Linked DNA regions of Homo sapiens: region 1 is linked to region 2. Evidence: fine-mapped expression QTL. A gene starts in region 2. The other region holds a variant in brackets. All regions are shown on one strand. Distances are from middle to middle.

Region 1 (4,397 bases), 39 kb before region 2:
ACTTGTAGTGCACCCTCCCCTGGTGCTCGGGATCCCGGGTCTGACTTTCGGACCTCTCCCCAATATAAAAATGAGGAGCCCGACGGAGGTCTATCAGGGAGCGTGGGGGAAGAGACCGTTTGATCCAATCTCTGCTTGGCGTCTCCTCCTCTTCTTCACTCAGCTGTGGGGAGGGAGGCTGGCGGGGGACCCGGGATGCATATTGTCGCACGTTCCTGGGGTACAGCTCCACAATGTCACCTGAAGCATCTATCTTGAAATGTCTTTCTGGCCAGACATTTAGATGTTTTTTCTTGTAAGAGTCACATTCATTAATGACATAGTATCTGGGGGCGTGGGGCCTGGGACCCTGTGCCAGCAAAGTCGAGGCCTGTGGTCCACGGTGAGGAGGGTTGATTTGCTGAAAGTCTTTTCGGAAAAGAGGTTCTGAGTGTACATCTTCGATGTGCGTTGTAAATGTCATAGGTGTGCGCGATCTGTTCCTGTGAAGGTCACTGGTGCTTGCACACAGACCGTGCAGATACCTGTAAGACAGGGGCGGTTAAGTAGCTGTGGCCTTGGTGGTCTCAGAGCCCCACACCTGAGGACTGTGAGCTGTGAGCAGTTCTCTGAGCATTTTCACTGAGGCTGGTTCCAACTGGTTAATGGGTATGGATTGTGTGCACAGAGACATTTGGGGGACAGGGCTAAACAGTTTTCTTTACTGCTGGAATTTTCAGAACCTAAATCAGTGATGTACACATGAGTCTCCATGAAGACTGCAGAGCGAGGGGTGTTATGCTAGTGTATTTCCTCACAGAGCCCTCTTTGTGTCAAGAGGCACATAGTGGGACTAGTGTCTGTGAAGCACATGTTAGGAACACAGTTTCTCATCCTTTCTGCTAAGCAGCTGTCTGACTTCTCAAGCACTTCTCTGAGTTTCCACTGGTGGGTGGAGGGGAGTTGTACATATTAAACAGTTCTTCCCTGGCCAGGTACGGTGGTTCACATTTGTAATCCCAGCGCTTTGGGAGGCCAAGGCAGGTGGATCACTTAAGGTCAGGAGTTTGAGACCAGCCTGGCCAACATGGTGAAACCTGGTCTCTATTGAAAATACAAAAAAATAGCCGGGTGTGGTGGCAGGTGCCTGTAATCCCAGCTACTCGGGAGGCTGAGGCAGGAGAATTGCTTGAACCTGGGAGGTGGAGGTTGCAGTGGGTCGAGATTGCACCACTGCACTCCAGCCTGGGTGACAAGAGCAAAACCCTAGTCTCAAAAAAAAAAAAAAGTTCTTCCTGATAAAGACTTGAATCTGTATGGTGGCTGTAGTTTGACCCCTAGGGGCCTCTCAAGGAGTGTTTGAACCCTTTCTCCTTGTCAAGACCCCACAGAGACAGGCAGACAACTCCTTATATAACAAGACTTCAAGTTCTTTGCTAACTTAGTCATTATCTTTAAAAAAGAGAGCCCCTGTATTTTATCTATATTGCTTTCGCTGTGCTACATTCAGATCAAATATAATTCTCCATATGAGTTTGGGCCACCGCAGGTCTATCCCCTTCATCTTTCCAGGGGTCCTACCTCCATTAAAGTAGGAAGGGATCTACTGCTTTCTTTGACCCCATGTAATGCATAAATGGTCTTGCCAATAACTTGACCAGACTAGGGCTAAAATATGGAAGATCTTGCCAATAATATGGCCACTGTGGAACTAAAAAATAAACAGTTATTTTCTTAGCCTAGACAAATGTTTATCCTAGGTTGGCTGGAAGGTTTGCTTACAAGTTAAATGGCAGATAACCTAGGAGGAAGAATTTGTCCTGTTTGATAAACTTTGACACCCCCACCCCGCCTCCATTTCTTTTTAGTACCAGCTGTCATAGTCTCCTGACCCATGCCTTCTGGGAGAATTAGAATTTAATGGCCTTGGCCTCCTGAAGCTGCAGAGGCCTTCAAATCTCTCACATTCCAGGTTTTAATCTGTGCTGCAGTGGAGCCTCACCTGTTAGTTTCATGCTCTAGCCTGGATTTGGGGACCCCAGGGAGAGGTGAGCTAGGAGCCCTGTCCCCTGGCCTCGGGCTCTGGGGCATGGACTGTGCGACTGTCTCTATCCTGCCACTCTTGCTGCTCCCTGAGTCAAAATGGGCCACGTTGCCGTTGTTTTGGGGTGTGCCCGAGTGCGCTGAGGACAGCTGGCTGGTAAGATCACTGTCGTTTGGAAGCTTCTTGGTGCTTTCTTCCTGGGTCTGGATTCGGGCTGCAGGGAGAGGGAGGTGTTGTGAGAAGACAGGTGTCACTGAGCAGGTGACAACTTCAGATGAGTTGAGTTGCAAGGGTTTTATGACATCCAAGAGTTGGTCCGCAAACAATTGAGTGCACTTACAAAT[G/A]CACCTAACCAGTGGGCAACAAACATTCTGTAATTCAAATGATTTCATCCCTGCAAGTTGGAGCTGGGAGTGTAGGAGGAATCAAGTGAACACAAGGCTTTACAGTGCTCCATCTGATGCTCCCATGAGGCAAAGCAAGTACTTAACAGCTTTGGGCCTCCAGTTCCTTATCTATTCAATGGAGATAATAAAGCTTACACAACAATTATGATTCTTTGGAAACAGTTCACATGCATTCTGAAAAAAGATGTGGTCTCGAGCTGGAAAATGAACACTGGACAATGCTATTGTTATCCTGAAACAGTCTATGTGGATTCTGGCTTTTGAAGGTGACCTGAACTAAATTTAATTACGCTTAATTGGCAAATAAGCGATGACGATTACAGAGGCATTTTATGGCGTGAGCCACAGTCACTTTCAGTAATCATTATCAATTGTAGGCTTCTCTCTGAAAAGCTGATGGAGCAAGCAAGCATAATCCTTAGGCCTTAGAGGTCTTGCTCAGACATTTTTCTGGAGAGGAATATTTCCCTTCCAATTAGTGAAGTATTGCAACAGCTGTGAGAGCTAGCCCCTAAAGCCCTTCTGGGTCCCATTCTCATTCATGTAGGCTGTGCCATGTTAATGGTGCCCAGTGAGCCTTCTAGCTCACAGCACTCTGTTAGTGGTCCTGAGAAACAGATCCATCTCCTTCGAGCTGCCGTTGCCCACTTTCTTCCCTTCAGGCCACAGCAGACTTCTACGCCACATGCTTCCATTCTCCCTGCTCTGCAGGGACAGGACAGAACCTAAGGAGGCTCAGGGAAGGGACCTGGGAGGGAACATTGCAAGGAAGAGATGGGCCATGGAGAGGAAGTATACAAAAGTGACCCAGACAAAGAGATTCTTTGGGCTTTCATCCACGTGAATGTGCTGCTTTTCCTCTCCTACTTCGATACTTCCTTCTGATTTTACACATGTTTTGGGATTATTCATGGGCCTGGATATGATATAAAAATTAAAGATTTAAAACAACATTTATATCCCTAGATTTTATTTTATTGTGCATAGTTACTGGTGAAAAAACACAGGTTATCAGGAATTTGTATTGGTAGTATACCGCAAACTACTTTAAATGGCTGTATTTTTAAATGCCCACTAACTGAGACAGCAGATCTCTGCATTTAAAAAAAATATTAGGACAGGTGCAGTGGCTCACACCTAGAGCTAGCTCTAGGGGCTAGCTCTCCCCAGCACTTTGGGAGGCCAAGGTGGGTGGATCATGAGGTCAGGAGTTTGAGACCAGGCTGACCAACATGGTGAAAATATAAAAATTAGCCAGGTGTGATGGCACGCACCTGTAATCCCAGCTACTCAGGAGGCTGAGGCAGGAGAATCACTTGAACCGGGAAGGTGGAGGTTGCAGTGAGCCGAGATCACACCACTGCACTCCAGCCTGGGCGACAGAGCAAGACTCTGCCTCAAAACAAAAAAACAACAACAAAAAGAAACGGAAATACTTACCTTCTACCATCTGGGCAACCTTTTTCTTATCCTCTGATCTTGCCTAAAATGCAAATGATATGCATGTTTGTTTTGGCTTTAGCAGGAAGCAGTAACAAATATTATTCCTGGGGGAAGAGAAAAAGATTTACATGCCATAGTTCTTACCTTGGACCATAACTGTACTACTATTGCCCCCTATGGACGGTATGCTCTGGGCTCGGGCCTGTTATTTGAGTGAATAAATGCAGATACCTGAGAGCTGAAGTTTTATGCCTAGCCAGTTTTATTTAGGGACAGCTAATTAACAGACCATGTTTAGATTCTGTCCATAATAGTTTGCCTGAATCACAAAGAAAAAAATACAGATCGACAACACTGGAGATGTATGTTTCCACCAAAATGGCCTTTGTAACTCCAAATGAATTTCCAATTAGAAGCTAATTTGTGTTTCTTTGCATGAATTGATGTTCATGGGAAGTTTTTTTTTTTTTCTGATAGAAGTGGAAGGAGTTTTTTTGCATGGGTGAGGTCAGTGAGGCATCTGG
Region 2 (4,397 bases):
TACAATGCTAAGCACTCACAGGGTTCATCCCATTTGATCCTTCAACAAACTGCTATCAGTGGATCTCAAACTTGAATGTGCAAAAGTATCAACCTGAATGCATGTTAAAAATACAAGGACCCTCTCCCTTGGTTTGATTCAGTAGGTCTGAGAGCAATCAGGGATTTTGAATTTTTAACAATATCCAGAGAGCTTAGTGGTTGACATTTTTGGAAACGTGCTGCAGGAAGTTAAGGGCTATTCCTCACCATCGCTTCAACTTTAAAAAAGAAAAGAACTGGTATTCAGAGAAATTAAGAAAATTAATATCACATAGATAGAAATTGGTAAAGGCAGTATTTGAATCAGGGAATCTATTTTTAAATCTTTAGCACTTTATTATATAGACAGACTATTTAATATGACTCTAAGTATCATAATAATCTGGCTTCCTATAAAGTCTTTTTTTTTTTAATTATTTTTTTACCCAGAGGGTGGTAATATCCAAGCAGCTAAAATGAGTATCTCTTTTCATATTGGCTTACTGCTCTGTTTCTAGTGAGCGAGACGAGCTTGGAGAGAATATTAAAATCTAGTGTTTAGAAAGGAGGTAGAAGATAAAAGACTCTCCACCAACACACACACCCCCAACACAGACACACAACTCTTTATACTCTCTCTTTCTCTGTATCTGTCTCTCTGACACACACACACACACACACACACACACACACACACACACACACACACACACACACACAGAGGAACTGGCTTCTGGACCAGCTAGACCTCTCAGATATCTTTGTGACTTTGCTAATTCAGGTCAAGAGTGACTGAGCCATCTCTCTCACATGAGTCTTTATCCTCGTTCCCATGGGCAAGGCAAGGTGGTTTATCGGAAAGCATGCTTGTAATGATCAATAATGGCCATTGAGGCCCTTACCTCAATGCCCTCAGCTTCTGTCCCATAGTCCAGGGTCTGCAGCGAATGTTTGCCATGAGATCTTTCTGGAACTGTATATTCTGGAAGATTTGTTCCGGATCATTGCTGTCCCCTGTTTCATCAGCACTAAAGCTGTCATCCAAGTTGCTGAATGATCAGGGCATTAAGGAGGAAATCTGATTAGAAGAATTGCTTCCAGCAAAGATCATCTTGCCCTGGGCACAAGTTCAGCATCTCACTGCCCTAGGGTCATCTGTATGAAATGTGTATGTGTTTGTGCGTGTGTGTGTGTGTGTGTGTGTGTGTGTAAAGTGAGGGACCCACAGAAACAGATAATTTGCCAGTGTCAGTAGCCTGTTGAAACACATTTATTGGATTCAATTACTTCCACTGGGTCATTAGAAGATAATGATTTCTCAGGGTGCATGATATTATCAGAAAACACAAGATGAGACAAGAGGGTATTTACGTACTCTTGGATTCCTGAGTAGCAGCAATTTGGGTAGGCAAAATAATTTCTTTTTCAGGCTCATTGAAATAATCAGCTAATTTTAGAGGCAGGACTCCTTATGTTACTTGAAGGTAACATAAATCAAAACTTCTGCCACTCAGAAACCCCTCTTCACCCTTTCACGTCAATTCATTTTAAGCCTGAGATAACCGAGGCAGAGCCAGGCAAAGCAATTTCTACGAGCGAAAGATTAGCTAAGCAAATTTACATGGGTGAGATATTTCAGGAAATAGATACTCTCAAGAGGAACAATTTTCCAACATGTAGCAACATTTACTCCCAGTTACACTTAATATGCTTATCCTAATGCAACATTTTGAGAGGAGTTAAGAGTATTCATCTATGACTATTAGAAATAAAAGATTTCGTTTGTTATTCTCTAATTCATGTTGTTTTTACTCATTTAGAGGAGAATTTTTTTCAATTTCACCAAATTAAATGGCAGCTGTACTAGACCTTTATAAATATTTAACAAATTCGAATAGCACTCTCATCCACTTCTAACTAGCCTGAAGGCTTTTCCAATAAACACTTTATTTATCATGATAGACATATTATCTGCTCTCTCTTGACATTGCTGATTGAGTGAACATAGAGAAAACAGGGAAACATATCTGTGGGTTTGGCCAGCCATAAAGCCAGGTTGGGATGCAAGCTTTTGGATTCTGACCTCCTGGTCAAGAAGCAGCCAGAAGAACCATTTCCCCCCATGCCCGTTGCTGAGGTTGCCATCCTAGTTGTACCACAACCTGGAGAAGTGAGTTTCTGAGTTCATTCTGAAGGACAACTGAGCAGGACAGGGACTTTGTCCCTCGCTCTGGTGACCCATGCATTCCTTCCTCACACACCTGACTCCTCTGCCCAGCTGATGAATGGGGCCAGCTCACCTGAGCAGCAGAGATTCCTGGTAGAGGTAGCACTGGCTGGCATTTCTCCGGATGCCTCTATAGCGCTGGGATGCCTTCGAGGTTTTCATGGGAGCTAACCCACTGCTAACAATCAGAAGCTGGCCAGAGAGCTAGGAAGTTGGCAGGCAAAGGTCTGTTCCGAGGTTTCTGAATGGAAGCAGCGGAGTTTGCTCTGCCCGCTAGTTCTCAGGAAGAAGACTGTGTGCTTGCAGCTGGTGCTCTGAGCAGGGAAGAATCCAGGAGGCCAGTCATGCATATGTAATGTTAAGGTGGCTGAGGCACACAGATTGGCTGGAGTCTAGACAGCCAAGGGTTTGGCCCGGTGATCTACACATCGCTTGGTGCTGTACAAATGATCACATCCGTTAACCCCTTATGCCCTGACAGTCCTGGATGGTTTGCAAAACACTTTACATCTGTGACCATGACTGGTGTTCACAAAACACTGAGGGAGTATAAAAGGCAAGGCTTAATTTCCCCAGTTTTTTACTCTCAACGAAGAGGCTTAGAGACAGTAAGGACCTTGCTTGTGTTCATACAGTGGAGTTGAGGAGAGGCACAGCCATCACATTTTATTTTTTCTTATTTAGTTTTTTCTCAACTTAGTTTCTATTTTGAAAAAAGTCAAATCCTTAGAAATGCTGATGGAACAGTACCAGGAATATCTGTACACTCTTAACCTAGATTTACCAATTGCCACATTTTGCCACAATTGCTTTATTTCTGTCTGTATCCTTCCCCCACCACACACCATTTGAAAGTAGATTGCAGAAATAATGATACATCAACCCCAAGTACTTCAGCATGATATTAATAATAATCAAATTAACATCTTATTACATTTTACCTTTACCATACATGGTCACATTAATGAGCACTATGACTCTGAGACTGAGGCTAAAAGAAATAAAGAGACTTCCTATAGCATTTGGTAAGAAAGGAAGACTTTGATAGAGATTAGACTCTCACCTCAATGTTCTGAAAATAGGTTGCCTGCTGTAAAATGGGATGAGTAGTTCATCCTAGTCCTTCAGCAAAGGTCAGCAGCTTCTCCTCCCCTTCCCCAGCCATCAGCAGAATGGAGCCCGGTTCCTTTGTCACCTGCAGACTCTCACTGTTAGCCATGCATTGGGATTCTGTTCCAAGAACCTCATTCCCAAGTCCAAGACTTGCCTGGTTTCACAGTGTAAACCTCTATTTGCTACTTAACACAAGAAATGGTTTGACTGCAGTGAGGTAAATTGCACCTTTGTAGTAACAGAATGGGAAGGTGCAGGACTGGAGTAGACATGACTCTTTCTATTGAACATTACCCACTGCACACTAAAGACTCAATAAATGGGTGAATAAATAACTGAAGTGGACACCAGACAACGGAGCAGAAAGAAAATCCATCAGCAAGTTCAGATGTGGGGCTTCGGAGAGAAACTTCATTCATTTGTCCATTCAATCCTCCACTAATTCATTAGCAAATAATTGGAAAGATCTTACCACACACTGAACTGGCAAATGTAAGCAAGAGCCCTAGCCCAGGGGTTCAGGACCATCAGGCAAGTGTTCAGACCTAGCGCTGAAAGCATGGGAACGAAGTGGAAGGCTGAGTGCCAGAGCTGGCCTTGGGTCAGAGATGGATCCGGAGCCTCTGGGACCAGGTCATCTGTCTGCCAATTTGCTTGAGGCCATTTGGCCTGATGCTCTATCTGGTAACATTAGATAAAATGTGTGCTTATCAAATGGACAAATGGCTTATACAATAGAATTACTGCTAGCCCCACTGGGATTTTTTGCATTCTTTCAGAGATCTTTACTTATCTCAATCATTCCTGAACATTTCAAAGATTTTTTTCGTCCTACTTTTTCTAAAGCCCCCCTGCCTTATTTTGAAATATTTACTCAAAAATTTAAAATATTTTATATTAATCTCACTCAAGTATTTTGAGTGTTTTTGTTTCCTTTTGATGTTACATATACATGTATATTGTAAGGGGAGGTAAGGAAAGGTAGCAAATTTTGCAGTACACAGGGATTTATTAAAAACAAATTAGAGCAAAATCAA

Evidence for each region. PIP is the estimated chance that this variant, and not a neighbour inherited with it, causes the effect. A credible set is the group of variants that fine-mapping cannot tell apart.
Region 1: its variant is the best candidate, but not a certain one, in a credible set for the expression of TMC3 in nasal epithelium (TOPMed, PIP 0.86).

What each region holds. Positions count from the first base shown.
Region 1 is chr15:81,332,739-81,337,135 of GRCh38, forward strand. It overlaps TMC3 (transmembrane channel like 3), which reads right to left. Exons shown (of 22, transcript NM_001080532.3): 20 at 3,871-3,913; 21 at 1,982-2,237; 22 at 1-524. The region is part of intron 2 of TMC3-AS1 (TMC3 antisense RNA 1); the gene reads left to right. Among named protein-coding and RNA genes, the nearest start is that of TMC3-AS1, 11 kb to the left of the region's middle. The variant G/A (reference allele first, on the strand shown) is at 2,368.
Region 2 is chr15:81,371,669-81,376,065 of GRCh38, forward strand. It overlaps TMC3 (transmembrane channel like 3), which reads right to left and starts at 2,545. Exons shown (of 22, transcript NM_001080532.3): 1 at 2,321-2,545; 2 at 923-1,069. The coding sequence starts at 2,409. All of the region lies in intron 5 of TMC3-AS1 (TMC3 antisense RNA 1), which reads left to right.